Linked DNA regions of Homo sapiens. The protein of the gene in region 5 purifies or fractionates together with the protein of the main gene of each other region. This does not show direct contact. Each region holds a gene or a part of one and is shown on either strand. Other genes may lie near its edges. The genes, in order: OSBPL9, OSBPL11, CAMKK2, UBE3B and MYL4.

Region 1 (4,424 bases), on a different chromosome or scaffold from region 5:
CAGACTACAGGCCAAGTGATTTTGGAAACAAGAAATAAAGTTATGCTATTCACTGCCTTGCTTGGAAGGCTACACAACTAATTCAGATATTCTTCCTGGAAGATGTAGCTCCAAGTTATTAGCCACATGCAAATCATTAATATGTACCTTCAAATCCTTCAGAATCCGAATGGACTGAAATAATGTCATGTGTGTAGAATTCATTGCCAATATCCAATGTGTCTCCTACCTTCCCTTTTAAGTAAATATCTATCCTTTTCCCCTCTTCACTAGACCTCCTCTAATTTGAGATTGGGTATCATTTTATTTTCACAAGATGGTACAACAATTGTCTGTTGTTTCTCTGTAAGCAAATACTTCAATATCAAGGAACTAGAAAAGAAAAAAAATCTTCTAAACAGCTGTTAGTGAGAAATATGATACTTCCTTCCTCTGGCAAGGATAATATTTTAGGGAATCTAGTCTCAAAAAGAAGGATAAGCATTGAGGGGGAAAAAAGTATTTTTTTAAACCCTATATTTAGCCAGCAAGAAAAGAGATATTTGTCCAAGTATTCAAAAACTGAAAGGGCAACAAAGCAGAAAAAGGATACATGAAAAGAAGAAAAAGAGGAAAAAGGAAGATTCTTTCTGGGCTAGGCATTCCCAAGAACCTCAGCTGGGGGCCTCTCCAGTATGGTCCTAGATTCAGATCCACACAAATTTGGGATTTGTAAAGTAACTTAACTGCATAGTGTCACTCACTGAAATCACTCTATCTTGAATAGAGTTTACGGGATTTTCTGATTATCACATCTACTTAAACCCAATATTACTTTTCCTTTATCTAAGCCATGGGTTTCATAATTCCAGAGTTTTCAGGACATAATATTCAGTTGCCTCTCTTTCATGCCCACCTAAAGACAATCTTGAACAATGTGTTTAAGACTCATTAAGGTTTAGTCTTTTTCCCTTTAAAAACTATGTAGAGAAAGAAAGCTGATAGTTGAAGGATGATGAAAGTAATACTTTTACTCTTGCAAGCTTGCCTTTAGTAACTCACAACTTACACTTTTCTCCTTCCTGTAGTGAAAGCGAAGTTTAGTAGAAAAAGTCAATAATTTGGCATCCTGATTCCATCACTTAGTGCTATGTGATGTTGAGCAAATTGCTTTAAAAGCCTGGAGCCTCAGATTTCAAAACTGTAACTGGGGATATTAAATGGAGATAATGAATAACCACCTTGCAGAGTTATTAGGAGTGAAATGAATTAAAGGACTCACCAAGCTAGTATATAAGCTCCAGAGAAGAGGAACAGTGAATGTCTTTTTTACTGTCTATTCTTGCTGGCATGAAAACGCACATAGCAGCTCAATAATATTTTTTAAATGAACAAATAAATTCAGTGTCCCCTTTCTCTCATCAACCTTAATCCTTCTTCCATAATCATGTTTTTCTTTCTGTCTTCTATTATTTTCTAAAGCTTTCTGGGCATTCTATTTTGTCCTCTTATGTATTTTCTTCCCTCATATCGGCTATCGTCAACTATACACCATTCAGAGAAAGTACCTTTCTAAGTAAGTTATCTCCCTAATACCACCTACTCTCCATATCGAATGCGATGAGGGTGGAGGGGATAGTCAAAACATAAGATTCAAGGCCGGACGCGGTGGCTCACGTCTGTAATCCCAGTACTTTGGGAGGCCGAGGCGGGTGGATCACCTGAGGTCAGGAGTTCAAGACCAGCCTGGCCAACATGGTGAAACCCCGTCTCTACTAAAAATACAAGAATTAGCAGGGTGTGGTGGCGCATGCCTGTGATCCCAGCTACTAGGGAGGCCAGAGGCAGGAGAATCGCTTGAACCCGAGAGGCAGAAGTTGCAGTGAGCCGAGATGATGCCATTGCACGCCAGCCTGGGCAACAGGGCGAGACTCCGTCTCAAAAAAAAAACCACACACACACACACACACACACACACAACCACGTAAGATTCACAGCAATTCATCTACTTTTCCACGGCCACCAACTCATGTTAACAACAGTGAAGCCCTGAACCCAGAATGTAACTGTAAGGGGACACTGCACTATCACTTGTCTCTCTTCGCTGACAAGAGTCTCGCGTGTAGGAAATCCTTGGCTCTCAAAAGTTAAGGCGTCGTTTGAGCTCGCCTCCCGCTAAATAGAGGGGTGCGTCCCTTGAATGAGACACACAACCTGAACCGACTGGAGGGATTTCGGACCCCCTGGTGTTGCCCGAGGGCTGGTCACTTTTGGACCTGTCCCGGCTCCTCTGGCCACTCCTCCGAGGAAGCAGAGCTCTTCAATCCCTGGAGGGAAGCTAAGGGGTGCGGCCGGCTACAGGGCCTTGGTGGGACAGTGTAAAGTCCATGACAACATATGAAGACAGCATGAACCGCAAGACTGGACCTTTTAAGCCATGACTACGATCACCCTTACCCGCTCACAACCATGCTGGACCCCACTACCGCTTAATAGCGGACCCTAAGAAAGAAACTTGGCTCACCCCCAACCCATAAATCAGACAGCTAGTTTCTATTTATTGGCTGCGCCCCTCTCTCCCTCACCCTCATTGGCTATCCGAGACGTAAAACCCTCCCCAACAAGGGAACCCTCGCGTACGGCGGCACCCCCAGACTAGCAACCTCAACTCAGCCACCTAAAACCCCGGTCCCCCACCTCCACCCAGGAAACGCGGCCCCGAGGCGCCTGGAGCTGTGCCCTCCAAGGACTCACCGTGTAGTAGGAGAGCAGTCCTGCATTGTAGTCCAGCACGAACCAACGGTACTGCCAGCCCTTCATCACGTTAGTCCATTTGCTCAGCGGCCCTTCCATGATGGACGCCATCTTGGGAGCCGCCAATGACAACAAACGGCCTGACGTCACTCGCCTATATGGCATTCAGCATGCGGGGGGCGGGGCCGCAGGGGGCGGGGCGGGTCCTGGGCGGGTCCTGGGCGGTGCCGGCAGATGCTCCAGCGATCAAGTCAAACACGCTTTCTTAGGGCGCCTATTGTGTGTAGGACTCCATGCCACGGATGCGAGAATGCAAACGTGAATACTGCTATTAAGATTATTTATAATCTGTCATGGGATTAGAGTAAAGAAAAAAGATTATGAACATATTAATAAATAATTTTACTGGCCATGATACCTTCCACTTCCAAAAGATTTCATATCTGATATTCATTTATGCATTCATTCCACAAATCCATTCATTTAATAAATATTCGCTGTTTTGTGCTAGGCATTCTTCTAGACATTGGGGATACAACAGAGCCTTCATGACAGGTGAGGGGAATGGTAAAATAAATAGTAAATTATATCGTACATTAAAAAATCATAAATGCTATGGAGAAAAACATAAGCAAGGAAGGAGAGAGCGCTGGGACTGCTATTTTAAATTCCCAAACAGGGAAGGCCTGAGTGAAAAGGTAACTTTTAAGCAAAGACCTGAAGAAAGCGAAGGAGGGAGCCTGGTGGAAGAGCCTTCCAAGACGAAGGAATAGCAAATGCAAAGACCAAATGTTAGGAGTGAGCGTGGCATCTTGAGGGATCAACAAGGAGGTCAGTGTGCGTGGAGCAGTGAGCCAGGGAGAAAGTGGTGGGAGATAAGGTCAAAGAAGTAGGGATAGATCACTAACAGCCTACAGGGGCAATTTAAGCATTTATTGGCTGGGCGCGGTGGCTCGCACCTGTTATCCCAGCACTTTGGGTGGCCGAGGCAGGCAGATCACTTGAGATCAGGCGTTCGAGACCAGCCTGGCCAACATGGTAAAAGCCCATCTCTACTAAACATACAAAAATTATCTGGGCGTGGTGGCGCACCCTGTAGTCCTAGCTGAGGCACAAGAATCACTTGAACCTCGGAGCCGAGATTGCATCACTGCACTCCAGCCTGGGTGACAGAGCCAAATTCTCTCTCACACAAAAAAAAAAAAAAAAAAAAAAAAACCAAAGGATTTATTGACCACCTACTATATCTAGGCACTGTTGGAGGTCCTGGGAATACAGCAGTGAATAAGCTCTCTCAGAGCTTAAATTCTGTGGTGAAAGCAAACACTAAACAAGTAAACAAGAAAAATATCCAATACTGATTAACACTGCAAATAATTTAATAAATTATTTTAATAGGAAGTCAGTGGGTAGCTAATTTATAGGGGGTGGTTATAGGGCAGGCCTCTTAGGAAGTGGCTTTAAACTTAGATATGGAGGATAAGAAAAGGCCAGCCGTGCAAATATCAAGAGAAAGAGCTAAAAAGGAAACTAAAAGATGAGGCACTAGCTGGAAACGGAGGTGTGGTCAAGGGAAGGGCTTTCTTTGTCCTTTTTTAAAATTATTATTTAGATCGAAGACACTAGAGAATATTACTTTGCTGATTTTCAAGAGAGGGAAAAACTGGGGACATCCTAGAGAAAAGAGAGAA
Region 2 (3,658 bases), on a different chromosome or scaffold from region 5:
GTGACTGCTAGTGGCTCCGGATTTTTTATTTTTTTTGTGGGAGAGATGACAATGTTCTGAAATTAGAAAGCTGCAATTTGGCCAGGTGCGGTGGCTCACACCTGTAATTCCAGCACTTTGGGAAGCCAAGGTGGGCGGATCACTTGAGGTCAGGAGTTCGAGGCCAGCCTGGCCAACATTTTTAGTAAAGAAACAACTTTTTTTAGTAAAGAAACCTGTCTTGACTAAAAGTACAAAAATAAGCTGGGTGTGGTGGTGTGTGCCTGTAGTCCCAGCTACTTGGGAGGCTGAGACAGGAAAATCACTTGAACCCGGGAGGCAGAGGTTGCAGTGAGACAAGATTGCGCCACTGCACTCTAGCCTGGGCCACAGAGAGAGACTCCGTCTCAAAAAAAAAAAGAAAGTTACAATGGTTGAACCACCTTGTGAATATACTAAAAACCACAGGATTATACGTATATACTTTAAAAGGGTGAATTTTACGGTATATGAATAGTATCTCAATTTTAAAAGGCAAAAAATAAAAAATATTCCTTCCTCATTTTTGTATATTAATATTGTATATAAATCTACATACCTTTCCAATAGCTTCAGTATGATGCTGTGTACATATCTGAAGTCTGCTAACCCAGTGCTGTCGCTCTTTTGCATCTGTAGCTGTTAAAAGAATGTAAAAATTATTTTATATTTATTTATTCTGGAACACAATTAATTGCCTACAGTATGAAGATCAGATCACTGAAAAGCAGATACTGGTCTTACTCTCACTAGAGCAAACTTCCCTGACTGGAGGGAGGCAGGAAAGAGGCCAAAGCACCAACGTTGTTAGGGAACACAGTAGCTGGATGTAGTTACTTCATTAAAAGGAGAAATTACATGCAGTGAGGTGAGGATGAGAGACTGACATGTTGCAACTCATAAAAATAGGTTCTTATTTAAAGAAATAACCCCTTAATTATTTGATGTATAATCAATACTTTCAGATCTGCAGGAGCACGCTCACTTAGGATTACCATTATACTTTGTGTATTCATTAAATAAAAAACTTCTACACAAATTAAATTTATCTTAACAGAAGTTATACGTTATTTTAATGAATGACATTATAATAAATCCCAATAATGTACATTAGTTACTGAAAACTGCAAAAAGGGCACGTAAACTAAACCAAGTAAAGGGGTGAAATACATAAAAAATATCATTTAAAGTCTATGTTTCTAGATTTTCAGTAATCAGAGTTTCACCTACACCGTTTTTCAGAGGGGCCAGTCCTAAACAAACATACATTGTCCCACTTGAAAACAGTTACTTATTACAAAAGATTTCATAAATTCTCAAAGCAGTTCCAAGGTTCAGAATATTGTATTTACATCACTGATGACAGCAGTTTCTATTTCCAAAGCCCATATGAAAGCATGTAAGACACCAACTTCTCAAAAAAAGAGGAAAATCACAGTATTAATTCTCATATTTTGGTCATACCTCTGAGTTTATATTGTTCCCCACTGGCAGCGTTTACAGTGAAGGTGTGAGAATCCTCATCACTGGGTGATATTACAGCTCCTGCAAGCTGCAAAGTTCCTCTAGGTTTCTGATTTCTAGACTGTTCATTCACAAAGTACTCCAACAGCCCAGCTTCATTGTTTAAAACAAAAAACCTGTAATGATTTTTTAAAATCCATAATTTGTAAACATTTTCCCTCAGCAAACTAAAGCAAAGCAAACTTCAATCACTTACACATTTCAGGGTTTTGCTCTTAAAAATAAAATTTAAAAGCATTTCAAGAGGTACCTGGAAACACTACACTGAATTTTCCAGCAGGGAAGATTACTAAAAATCGAATGAGTTAGGCCAGGCGCAGTGGCTCACGCCTCTAATCCCAGCACTTTGGGAGGCAGAGGCGAGCGGATCACCTGAGGTCAGGAGTTCGAGATCAGCCTGGCCAACATGGTGAAACCCCATCTCTACTAAAAATACAAAATTAGCCAGGTGTGGTGGTGCATGCCTGTAATCCCAGCTACTCGGGAGGCTGAGGCAGGAAAATCGCTTGAATCTGGGAGGCAGCGGTTGCACTGCACTAAGATCGAGCCACTGCACTCCAGCCTGGGCAAAAAGAGCAAAACTCCGTCTCAAAAAAAAAAAAAAAAAAAAAAAAAAATTGAATGAGTTTAATAAAAGATATAATAAACCCTTCAGCTGAGGGAGAGGCATTTATTAAGAGGCCTATCAGTTAATGCACAAAAGGAAGCAAAGATACCATATCCTTTCAGAGACAGATTTTTCCCCAGAATTCATTAACAGAGGGTAAACTGCCAAAGGACAAATGGTAGTGAAAATTTTTCTTTAAAATTCACCGGAAATAAATCAAAATATGAGCTCTGAGGTTAAGGCAAGATATACTAGGCAAGATATGCATTGTGATTTAAGAATTAGTGAAATATACAACAAGAATAACAGGGTAAAAAAGATTTTGTGAATGAATCATTAAATAAGTCAAAACTAAAGATTACTTCTCCTGTTTAAAAATGAAAAAGCTGCAATTGGAGATGCTGAAACATAAGGACCTTGAAACTAAATGATGAAATGCTGATACACTCTGGAAAAGAATTTGATGAAATACTAATACACTTTGGAAAAAAAAATTCTGATTTGGTTCTAGATTAACTACTTTCAAAAATACATTTCAGAAATTCCAATTTAAGTAGTGTAATAATTTTTTTTTTTTTTGAGATGGAGTCGTGCTCTGTTGCCCAGGCTGGAGTGCAGTGGCACCACCTTGACTCACTGCAACCTCTGCCTCCCAGGTTCAAGCGATTCTCATGCCTCAGCTCCCAAGTACCTGGGATTACAGGCGCCCACCACCATGCCCAGCTAATTTTTGTATTTTTCGTAGAGATGGAGTTTTGCCATGTTGGCCAGACTGATCTCAAACTCCTGAACTCAGGCGATCCTCCCGCCTCGGCCTCCCAAAGTGCTTGGATTACAGGTGTGAGTCACCTCATCTGGCCCCTTTTTAAAAAAGGAACGCTAGGCCAGACACGGTGGCACACACCTGTAATCCCAGCACTTTGGGAGGCCAAGGCGGGTGGACTGCCTGAGCTTAGGAGTTTGAGACCAGGCTGGGCAACACGGTGAAACCCCGTCTCTACTAAAATACAAAAAACTAGCTGGGCGAGGTGGCGTGCACCTGTAATCCCAGCTACTTGGGAGGCTGAGACAGAAGAATCACATGAACCCTGGAGGCAGAGGTTGCGGTGAGCTGAGATTGCACCACTACACTGCAGCCTAGGTGACAGAGTGAGACTCCATCTCAAAAAAAAAAAAAAAAAAAAAAAAGTAACTCTAAAAAGGGCTGGATGAGTTGAGATTGCTTGAATCCAGGAGTTCGAGACCAGTCTGGCCAACATGGCAAAACCCTGTCTTTACAAAAAAAAATACAGAAATTAGATGGGTGTGGTGGTGCATGCCTGTAGCTCCAGCTACTTAGGAGGCTGGGGCAGGAGGATGATTTCAGCCCGAGGTGGAGGTTACAGTGAGCTGAGATCATGCCACTATACTCCAGCCTGGGCAACAGAGCAAGACCCTGTCTCAAAAATAATTAATTAATTAATTAATATAAAATAAAAAGTAACTCTAAAAAGTTTTAAACTTTTAAAA
Region 3 (4,397 bases), on a different chromosome or scaffold from region 5:
AGCCTCCCAGATTCACACCAGTCTGAGGAGATTTCTCCAGAACCCTCAGTGCCCTGTGCTCCTTCGATCACAACAGCACTCATTCCTTGTGGTGTTTCTCAACAGTGGCACTGCTGGCATTTGGGGGAGGGTGATTTTTTTTTGTTTTTTGTTTGTTTTTTGAGAGGAAGTCTCCTTCTTGTGCCCCACGCTGGAGTGCAATGGCACGATCTCAGCACACTGCAACCTCCGCCTTCCAGGTTCAAGTGATTCTCCTGCCTCAGCCTCCCAAGTAGCTGGGATTACAGGTGTGTGCCACCACGCCCAGCTAATTTTTGTATTTTTAGTAGAGATGGGGTTTCACCATGTTGGCCAGGCTGGTCTCGAACTCCTGACCTCAGGTGATCCTCCTGCCTCGGCCTCCCAAAGTGCTGGGATTACAAGCGTGAGCCACCACGCCCAGCCAGGGGAGGGTGATTCTTTATGTCGTGGCCCTGGCCTGCCTACAGGACACTTTAGTAGGCATCCCTGACTCCCGCCCACTAAAAGCCAGGAGTGCTTAGCATCATTTTGACAACCAAAAGTCGCCCCCACACTTTCCCAAATCCCTGCCAGGAGGGTGGGACCACCCCCGGATGAGAACTAGTGCATTGTTATTAGTGACTATATTTAGCTACCAGCCCACTAGCCATATCTAAGGATGGGCAGTACTACAGACCCTGCATAGAGCTGCATCGGCAAACACTGATGTAGTGAATAAACAAAACAAAACAAACTCCTGGGCTCCTCAAGAAGCTCAGGGCAGCCTTGCCAGGGTCTCTGCTCTTGAACAGGTGCACAAAGGTTCTAAGGCCTGACATGCCTGCACTGGCTGTGTGACCCTGAGCAAGTTACTTAACTTCTCTGAGCCCTTCTATAAAATGGGGCTAAATCCTAGCAACACTGCAGGATTTCTGTAAACCTCAGTCTCCTAATCTCTACTATGGGGTTAAAATTCCCTACGTTGTAGGATTTGGTAGGCATTAAATGAGATAATGCATGTAACACATAGCACAGAATCTGGCAGGCAGCAAGAACTCAATAGATGTTAGTTTTTAATACTGTTATTATTATTATTGTCCAGGGCCAGGTGGCAGCTCATGCCTGTAATCCTAGCACTTGGGAGACTGACGTAGGCGGATCACTTGAGGTAAGGAGTTCAAGACCAGCCTGACCAACATGGTGAAACCCCTTCTCTACTAAAAATACAGAAATTAGCCAGGCATGGTGGTGGGCGCCTGTAATCCCAGCTACTGGAGAGGCTGAGGCATGAGAATCGCTTGAACCCGGGAGGCGGAGGTTGCAGTGAGCCAAGATTGTGCCACTGCACTCCACCCTGGGCAACAGAGACTCCGTCTCAAAATAAATAAATAAGTATTCTTATTATTATCCAAGTTAGGGGCTCATCAAATGATGGCTATTACTCTTCATTACAAAAATATGTTTTGCGTCCTCATCACCAATGCCTGCTTCCTCCATAGGAAGGGTGTGTGTCACCAATGCCTGCTTCCTCCATAGGAAGGGTGTATGAGCAGCAGTCTGGAAGGGGTATGTGGGGCTTGCCCTAAAGCTGCATTTGCATGGCATGCACACTATTTATTCTGAAACTGCATGTTTTTGTGGGGTGATTAGGGAAGAGGGTGGCTAACTCCCCCAAAGCCCTCCCCTTGTTGCAGCCCCCGCCTCCTCCAAGGAACAAAGGAGCTTATGGGGACATAAAGCCATCCTCTTCTCTCTCCTCTGGGGGCAGAGCTAGGGGAGGGGGAGTGGTAAATGGCAGCACAGCTCTAGGGCACCTGAAGTTTCTATCCCCTGCGTGGAGACTCCAAACACCAGGCTGGGGAAGGTAAAAGTAGCCTGTAGGGAGATGGACGCTGCAGGTCCCATCCGGAGGCCAGGTATCCCTCTCTTGCTGATAGCACTGAGACGCCCTCCCCAAAGCTCAGCCTTCTCGGGGAGATCGGAGGGGCTGAGCTGCATCCTGTCCAGCACTAAGTGAGAGTGGCCAGGAGGGCAGGCTGGCAGAGCTGTGAAAGCACCCACTTCCCCAGCTAGGCAGTGCAGGGGCTGGGGGAAAGCCAGGAAAAGCTCAAGGCTGGGTCGGGTGGCACCCCAGGCACAGAGCCCCAATGCTGAGAGGGGCTGGGTCCAGTGTCCCTGAGAGTCAGGCGGACGCCTCTCCGCATTCACAGCATACTGCAACCCCGAGGTGAATTTAGGTCAGAAGGACCAAGCCTGTGAGGCTCCGGCTGAGAGAAGAGGTGCGGTGGGGGTGGTCAAAGGGCAGACCGAAGACAGCCAAAGGTCCCCTAGGTCCCCACAACTGCTGGCCTAGGGTCCTGCCACCTGGTGTCCAAGCCACCAGGGCCTGGGTTTGCCCCGAGACAGGCAGGCTGCGGGGTGGGGGTGCTCCAAGTCCGCTGGTCCTCTCTTCCCCGGAACGCTCCAGATTTCCCCACCTGTCAAACGCGAGGGGCTGGGCCTAGGCCGCCTCCACGAACCCTGACGGACCCGGCCCCCGGTGACCCCGGTTCCAAACTCCAGGACCGCCCCTGCCACCCGGACAGGGCGCGGCCCAGCCGAGGAGGCCATCCCGAGGCCCAGGGCGCCCAGAGGACGCGGGGGAAGGGCTGTCGGGGACCGTGTCCCTCCACGTGGCGGGGCGTGGGGAGGCGCACGTGGGGTCCCTCCGTGTTGGGAGCCCCAGGCCAGCCTCCGGGCTTTGTGTGCCATGCCGGCGGCGGTCCCCCGCCTCGAGAGGGAAACGGAGCGGGCGCCCGGGGCCGCGGCGGCTGCGTCCCTTGCCCCGGGCCCGGCTACCGCCAGCTCACCTGGGCTCCGCGCCGCCGCCGCCTCCCGCGCTCTGCGCCCCCAGCTCGGCTCGGCTCGGCTCAGCTTGCTCTGCGCGGCCGCGCGCTCCTCTCCTCCGCCCGGGCGGCGGGCGCGCGGGGGGCGGGGGCGGGAGGAGCCGCCCGGCTCGGCTTGGGCGCGTCGCCGCCCCGGGCAGCGCGGGGATTGGCCACGGCGGCGGGAAACCCGAAAGCGGAACCGCCCGCGCCCGCCGCGCACCGCCCCCTGCGCGCCCCCGCCGGCTCGGCCCTGCGCCGGGGAGGGGTGGGGAGGCGGGAGCCTGCAAAGACGAAAGTAGCGAAGAGGCGAAGGGCAAGGAGCAGAAAGGGAGGAGGCGAAGAACGGGGGAAGAGAGGCCCGGCCGGGAGGATCGGAGGCGGCTGGGAGGAGAGCCTGGAGGGGCGCGGAGCGCAGGAGGTGGCGCCGCAACTTTGTACCCGCTCGCCCGCGGCGCGCACCTGCCCAGGTTCTTCCCGCGGCGCCCTCGGGCGGGCCGCGCCGGCAGCGCTTGCTTTGTTTAGCCAAATGCCGGGGCTGCAGGGCGCCTCCGGGCTGACCCTGGGAAAGTTCCCCCAAGCCGGCAAGAACACCCGGGGCCCCTCCTGTGGCGACCCGGCTGCTGCCCCTGCGCTAGGCGCCGGGCGGTGGATGCGGCCTGGACTTTGGGCCACCACCGACTCGGGGGAGCCCCCTTCCGCAGCTGCCTGCCGACTGACCACTTGCTCAGGGCCGGCCCTAAAGGCTGGGGGAAGGCGTTCCTCTCCCATCCCCAGCCCACCTGGATGCACCATTGAAGTTCATTCTGGCTTTTCCAGATGGCTACTTAGATGCTTTTTGTGAAATACAGCATATTCTTCCCATTCTCCCCTTTTTGGCACTTACTTTGCTGGAGCCTTAAGTGTGCGTTGGATCCCCCAGCTGGATAACAGCACTGTGCGGGGAAGAGGAGAAACGAAGACCTGGAGGGCTCCCTGAACCGTCCTACGGGGTCGAGCGACCCAGGGGATGTCTCACTGACCCTGCCAAACAGCCAAAAGGGAATCGAGTTGACAGGAGAGTCAACCTCCAAGTTAATAAAAGGTTCAAAGCCCTCTAGTTAACTGGGTGGATTTCCAGCCCGTTCCGATGTGCTTCTCTTGTATTTCTAGGCCGTAGGGACACTCACATGCAACGAGCCAATGAGAGCTCCACCCCGACTCCCTTTTTTTTTTTTTTTTTTTTCTTTTCTGAAACGGAGTCTCGCTCTGTCGCCCACGCTGGAGTGCAGTGACGCGATCTCGGATCACTGCAACCTCTGCCTCCCAGGTTCAAGCAGTTCTCTGCCTCAGTCTCCCGAGTAGCTGGGATTACAGGCGCCGGCCACCATACTTGGCTAATTTTTGTATTTTTCGTAGAGATGGGGTTTCACCATGTTGTCCAGGCTAATCTTGAATTCCTGACCTCGTGATCCACCCGCCTTGGCCTCCGAAAGTGCTGGGATTACAGGTGTGAGTCACCGCGCCCGGCCCACTCCCATTTTTTTTTCTTTG
Region 4 (3,658 bases), on a different chromosome or scaffold from region 5:
CCTCGCCCTCACCGTCTCCCATTTTCTCCTCACATGGTCTCTCTGTGGGAGGGTGTCAGCTGCTGCTCTGTTCCTCTTAACAATCCCACAGGAGACCTGCCTCTCGGGGACGCCTCACCAGTGCCCTGGCTGGGCATTTGTGCTGTTCCTACTCTGCAGTCACACGTGCTCTCACAAGTGGCCAGTCGCACCTATTGGGTATGGGTTTCATGTGTCTTAGTCCCCGAGAGCAGCACCCTTGAGAGAGATGTACGGCGTGTGCCAGTTTTGGGGCCAGATCCACCCCGCCACTCCATACGGCTGGCTAGACAGCAGTTACAACACGGTAACAGACAGAGCAAACACGTGCTACACAGCTGCAAGGGCCCGTCCTGGAAGAGCAGGAGCCTGCCCCGTCCCCACTGACCCTGCTTTGTGTTGCAGTTCGTGACCAGCTGCTCCAGACCCCCGCTCCTGGGATTCGCCTACCTCAAGCCTCCATTCTCCATCCGCTGCGTGGAGGTGTCGGACGATCAGGTACCCCCACGGGGTGGGTGGGGAAGAGCCTTGACTTCCCTCTTGGTGGTTGTCTGCTGTGCCCACTGTGCAAGGCCCTTATCTAGTCCATATCTCAGCAAGGCAGGCAGCTGGACCCCTCAGAGCCAAGTGAGGAGGGCCCCACAGTTCTCACGGCAGGAGAACCAGCCAGCCCCAGAGAGACTGCCCACGGACTCAGCCCTCTCTCGGCAGCCCCTTTCTCTTTCCTTCCTCAGGGAAGGGTACCTGGAGTGGGGGTGGGTACGTGCTGTTTTTAGTGGCGTCTGGCCTCACCAGGGCTCCAGATCTGAGGCAGCATGGGAGAAAGTGAGAGAGTGGGCTCAGGAGGCAGGCAGGCGCAGACTCGAATGCTACTCCTACCCCAGCAGGCTGTGCACGTCCAGGCTCGCTGCTTCATTTCCTCATTGGCCAAAGGAGAAGGAAAGCCTTCAGGGTTACGGAGCTCTGTGTGTCTCAAGCCTGGCCCACTGTGGGTGCTCAAATGAGAGTCCTACTCCCCATAAAAACCCAGTGGCCGCCTCTGGGTGTAGCTGCCTCTCATGATGCAGTTTGAGCCCGTGATGCCACCTTGTACAGGAAGCTACACAGTCCTCGGCCTCCATGCTTAAGGGAAAGTTGGCCCAAGTCATGGTCTGCCACCGGCCACAGCACCGGTGAGGAGGGAGGAGTGCATTCAGAAATGTTTGGGCACCTAACAGTTTTTACAGCATTCTACTTTTTGTCAATTGGTTAACCAGTAATTCGCTGTGAACCGGAAGGCCCCATTTCCAAAAGCTTACTTAGTGCAGGAATTCTCTGTGCAGGCCCCAGGGAGAAGGGGTTCCTTCTCTGGAAGCCAGTCGTCTTGTGTCTGGGGCTTGACCTCGGGTAGTGGTGCCAGGGCAGCGCCCTGCACTCTGCCCAGCATCCAGGGACTGGCCAGATCCCCTCCCTGGGCTCCCTGGCCTTGGCATCAGCCTGGGCTCCCAAACTAGGCCCTTCCCAATTCAAGGCCACGATGTGTGCCTTCAGGACACCGGGGACACTCTGGGCAGCGTCCTCCGGGGCTTCTTCACCATCCGCAAGCGGGAGCCAGGCGGCCGCCTGCCCACCTCCTCCACCTGCTTCAACCTGCTCAAGCTGCCCAACTACAGCAAGAAGAGCGTCCTCCGCGAGAAGCTGCGCTACGCCATCAGCATGAACACGGGCTTTGAACTCTCCTAGCTCCTGTCCCAGCCCTGCCTCCAGGGCTCCTGGGCTGCCAGGGACCTTCAGCTCCCAGAGGCAGTGTGGTCCTGGGAATGTGACCAACATGCCAGGTGACATTGGCCCCTAGACCCTCTCTATAGCCATGAGACTCCTTGTGGCCTCAAGAAATTTAGACGCCCACGACAGCACTACACAGCATCTCCAGGTGATGCCCAAGGCACAGGGCTGCAGAAAATAAACCTCCAGATTCCACCAACACGGGTCCATTCTTCCTGGTGATGGCAGAGGGGCTTCTTTTAGCTAGTTTGATCTTTTGGGAGTCTGTCTTTCCTTAGCCGTCTGAGTGAGCTGTGTATGAACAAGTCCCAGGAGTTCCAAGAGTCTAGAGTGGTTTTTGCAGCATGGGTTGAGTGTACAAAGCCTACTGTGCGTGAGATCCTCTCCTTCCGTTTCTGAAATCTCTTACTCAGGTAAGGCCTCGCCAAGCCTCTATGCACCCCACAAAGTTTCTGCCTCCATGCCGTCCACAGCGCCTCTTCCCAGACAGCCAGGCCCATCTGCTGCCCAGGGAAGCGCAGGCGCCTGCTAGGGACGCTATGGACACCGTGAGTCCAAGGCGCTGCTCCTGCCTTGAAGCCACGCGCTCCACGCCGCGGCCCTCCCATTTTCTGCGTCCTCAGCGGGCTGAGCTGCCAGAGAGTCTTCCCGGACCTATTCCCGTCCTATGCATTCACATTGGCATCCTGGTTTGGGGGAAGAAAAACAACGGCCCTTAGCAGCAGCCCCGTTTCCAGAATGTGCTGCCTGTTCCCCAAAGCCTGCTTGTCCCGCGGAGGACGGCTGCCTTTGACCCTGCTTATTTGTCTCACTGGTTATCTAATGAGGAACAAACACTAACCTAAGGTACACATCCCATCTGGGCGGTGGCTTCACTCCTGAGTCTGCAAAATCCCAGGAAACTTGGGTCTTGCTGCCCATCCTTCCTCAGCACAGGGAACCCGGAAGCCCGTTGCACTGACAGAGGCTCACACCCTCTGGGTTTTTTGTTTTTTTTTTAAACTTCATTTCTCTTCCAACCCATTGTGTTCCTCTGCCCTCATTCTTTACCTTTGTTGTAAGAACTTTAGCTCCAGGGAACTGAGGCAGAGGCCCTGTTTGTGGTCTGTGTTGACAGCCACCCACCCTCTCCCACCTCATGCTCCTGCACCTGCACCACCAAGGTTGATGCCGGATTCGAAGCCAGGAAGGCCCAGTCCCTCCTCTGCTCTCCTCAAAGACGCAAAACATTTTCCAACAAGAGCTGTCACAGTGGCAGCAAAGCAGGGGCCACCCGTCTCCACAGTCCTTCAGAGTTTCAGCTGCATCCTGGTGTCCCACCCAGGTCGAGCCCCCAGGCTTCTGGAAAAGAGTGTGTGCTCTACTTTGATGGAAACATGGCAAGGAATTTAAAGACAGGAATGTATTAATATTATTGAAGGTGTGTTCGTAACCTCTGATTCTGTGGACTTGCCACTTTCTCCAAACGCTCGGTTCCTTTGAAGATTTCTTCTGAACGTGTGTGCGCACGCTGGGCGGGTTCGTGCATACATGCGGGGACCCCAGACTGTCAGCACAGGGAAGATGGATCCCATCCTAATTTTTATCACCTGAAGGTTGGAACCAGTGAGGGACTGGGAGAGAGTGATTTATAAGCACCAATATCAACTTCATGTGGATTTTTGACAAGGAGGGGTAGTTTGTAATTTCATTTAAATTCTTTTCAGCAGCTGGAAATATTGCACTATCTGAAACACTGAATCTCCTTTTGTAACTGGTGTTCACTGACACCTTGATGGCTCTTGATGGCTCTAAAAAGTTGTAGGATTTTTTGTTTTTGTAGCTAACTTATGGATTGAGATGTGATCAAAGGCTTTATTAAATTTGTACTTCAGCA
Region 5 (2,574 bases):
ACAGGCAGTACTGATAACAGCTGACTTTCCAGCGGTCTTATCACTTTGTAAAGTGCTTCCACACACTGCGACCTCCCTTTGCTCTCACAGTGACAGGCCCAGGGAGTGGGGTGTAGTTGTCACTCCCTTTGTGTGCACATGAAGCTGAGACCCAGCCCAGCTTATCCTGCACTCTGAGGCAGAGCCAAGATGAGAATTTAGGAATCCTCACTTCTGGGCCAGTGCTGTTTTCACTTGTCTGTCATTTCAGGAGTCAGGAACCTCACCTACACCAGAGCGGGATGTGTGGGTGGGAGGGGTGGAGGCCAGGGAGACATCTGAATTTTTTTTTTGTTTCAAGATGGAGTTTCACTCTGTCACCCAGGCTGGAGTGCAGTGGTGCGATCTTGGCTGACTGCAACCTCTGCCTCCCGAGCTCAAGCGATTCTCGGGCCGCAGCCTCCCAACACTGGAATTTTATAACAACGAAGCAATAGAAGAGATCCCAGTCCCAGCCCTGGAATGGGTCGTGGAGGCACCAGGCTGCTTCTTTGGTTGACAGAAGATGGGATGAGGACGGGTTCGAGGGACGGCCTGGGATAATGGACAAAGCGAAATATTGGGATATTTTAACAACCACACTCACCTGCTATTCAGCTTGGGTGGAGGCTGATTGGCCACCAGCCACCACCTTCACTGGGGATTGGAAGGTATAGCTGGGTCTTCTCTCCACAGAGTTCAAAGAGGCCTTTTCATTGTTTGACCGGACCCCGACTGGAGAGATGAAGATCACCTACGGCCAGTGCGGGGATGTACTGCGGGCCCTGGGCCAGAACCCTACCAATGCCGAGGTGCTGCGTGTGCTGGGCAAGCCCAAGCCTGAAGGTCAGTGCGGCTGCATGGCAGACCTCTCCCAGGGTCAGGCTTGCAGCCCCTTGGCTTCCTCCTTGTCCAGATCTTCTCTGCCATCTGCACTCTCTCTTCTCCTGCTTTAGCCCCTCAGGACCAGCCTCACCTACCCAGCTTACCCTAGTCCCATTTTGAGAATTTATCTAGACGTCCCCGTACTTAAGTGACCCTTGAGGAATGTAGCCTGGGCTTGTTTCCCTCACGAGGTTGGGAGCTCCTGTGGGGCATGAGCCACATTCTGTTGCCTCAGTGTCTGAGGAAGGCTGAGTGGGAATCTGGAAATCTGATAACTGATGGTTCCCACTCCCCAGCCCAGGAGCTCTCAGGAGGGGCATCTGTCACAGCACCGAGGTATCCTGTGGTGGCCATCGCGAGCTGTATTACAAACAATTTGTTTCTAATAATGGTTAGAGTACTGACGTTTGCAAATTGTTTGGTATAAATTAGAGCAGCTTCAAGATTCTTAGCTCTACGTGCTGCCTCTTTCATTCATTTGCATTTCAATAGGTTTTGGTGAGTGAGTGTTTAGAATGGTGAGTAAGTGTTTAGAAAGTGGTGCAAACGATTCTTTTGTGGCTCCTAAGTGTGATCATTGAGTGTTCATACTCATGTGAGCTGTGCCTCTGTCAATCATTACGGCAGATGAGAAGAGGTGTGAGGGAGTGTGTCCTGTTTGTGAATGTTGTCTGTCATGTGTGCCAGTCAAGTTAACAGCTGCTCTAAAACACACACACATGCTTCTCCTCAGTGGTGTTGGCACGGGGTTTGGGGTGGGGTGAGCCTCTCAGCAAGGGTGGTCTGTCTCTGGAGGCTTCCTGGGCCCCATAGTGGTTTCCTCCCCATCCCTTGGTTCTGGCCCGTCCCCCTTCTCCTCTGGCTGAAGGTAACCGCGGGGGTGAAGGATGTGGGCAGGAAAGGACCAGAGGGCTAGGGGCTTGCATCTCAGAAGTCAGAAGCAAGTCCTGTGTGCTTATAAAAGAAAGAAATGCCCACATTTGTGATATTTAAAAATAGTTTGCCTCTATTAAATTAAAGCCTTTTAAATACACTACCATGTGGGAGAAGTATGCTATTCACAAGAGAACTGTGAATTTATAAGAATTATTGATTCAGAGTAGCTTCAAGCTGTGTGGTCTAGTGATGGGACCCCATGCAGAGTGATGCAAACGTTGCTTTTTTCAATCCTGTTGGTTTGCCCCTGTGATTATAGGTCTGTCACGTCAAGGGTCTAAACTGAGTGTGAGGCCCGGGCCGCGTGGCACTTCAGACCCCTCACATCCTGCTGCTGCCACCCTCAGCTCCTCCGCTTGGCTGGCCACCTGGTGCTTAGAGGTCTGGGTGGAGGGCTCCTTTTTCCTTCCATCCTACTGCTTTCACTGAGAAAAGAGGGCCCCTGAGACCATCTCCCCAGCTCCCAGTCCCCTACCTTGCTTGGATGGGAAGCTCTGTGTCCTCTAGGAGCACTAATGGGTGTACCACCCAGAATTGGCTGCAGCCCAAGCCCTGGGTGCTGTCAGACTTGGGGTGAGGCCCCCTCTTGACCCTCTGCTCCCTTGAGCACCTGCTCACATTGATTTCTCTTTCTTTACCCTGCCTGCCTGAAGAGATGAATGTCAAGATGCTGGACTTTGAGACGTTCTTGCCCATCCTGCAGCACATTTCCCGCAACAAGGAGCAGGGCACCTA

What was found.
Region 1: the proteins of MYL4 (region 5) and OSBPL9 purify together in Homo sapiens (affinity purification with mass spectrometry; one large-scale study listed by BioGRID and IntAct). This does not show direct contact.
Region 2: the proteins of MYL4 (region 5) and OSBPL11 purify together in Homo sapiens (affinity purification with mass spectrometry; one large-scale study listed by BioGRID and IntAct). This does not show direct contact.
Region 3: the proteins of MYL4 (region 5) and CAMKK2 purify together in Homo sapiens (affinity purification with mass spectrometry; one large-scale study listed by BioGRID and IntAct). This does not show direct contact.
Region 4: the proteins of MYL4 (region 5) and UBE3B purify together in Homo sapiens (affinity purification with mass spectrometry; one large-scale study listed by BioGRID and IntAct). This does not show direct contact.

The regions. Positions count from the first base shown.
Region 1 is NC_000001.11:51,615,531-51,619,954, reverse strand, and holds the start of OSBPL9 (oxysterol-binding protein-related protein 9), read right to left. Parts: upstream 2,845-4,424; coding exon 2,734-2,844; intron 1-2,733. UniProt on the Homo sapiens protein: Interacts with OSBPL11 to function as lipid transfer proteins.
Region 2 is NC_000003.12:125,578,383-125,582,040, forward strand, and holds part of OSBPL11 (oxysterol-binding protein-related protein 11), read right to left. Parts: intron 1,659-3,658; coding exon 1,483-1,658; intron 658-1,482; coding exon 578-657; intron 1-577. UniProt on the Homo sapiens protein: Plays a role in regulating ADIPOQ and FABP4 levels in differentiating adipocytes and is also involved in regulation of adipocyte triglyceride storage. Weakly binds 25-hydroxycholesterol. Interacts with OSBPL9 to function as lipid transfer proteins.
Region 3 is NC_000012.12:121,293,789-121,298,185, forward strand, and holds the start of CAMKK2 (calcium/calmodulin-dependent protein kinase kinase 2), read right to left. Parts: upstream 2,922-4,397; 5' UTR 2,850-2,921; intron 1-2,849. UniProt on the Homo sapiens protein: Calcium/calmodulin-dependent protein kinase belonging to a proposed calcium-triggered signaling cascade involved in a number of cellular processes. Isoform 1, isoform 2 and isoform 3 phosphorylate CAMK1 and CAMK4. Isoform 3 phosphorylates CAMK1D.
Region 4 is NC_000012.12:109,533,043-109,536,700, forward strand, and holds part of UBE3B (ubiquitin-protein ligase E3B), read left to right. Parts: intron 1-423; coding exon 424-516; intron 517-614; coding exon of another isoform or gene 615-794; exon of another isoform or gene 795-902; coding exon of another isoform or gene 903-1,022; exon of another isoform or gene 1,023-1,548; coding exon 1,549-1,740; 3' UTR 1,741-3,658. UniProt on the Homo sapiens protein: E3 ubiquitin-protein ligase which accepts ubiquitin from an E2 ubiquitin-conjugating enzyme in the form of a thioester and then directly transfers the ubiquitin to targeted substrates.
Region 5 is NC_000017.11:47,219,190-47,221,763, forward strand, and holds part of MYL4 (myosin light chain 4), read left to right. Parts: intron 1-714; coding exon 715-864; intron 865-2,492; coding exon 2,493-2,574. UniProt on the Homo sapiens protein: Regulatory light chain of myosin. Does not bind calcium.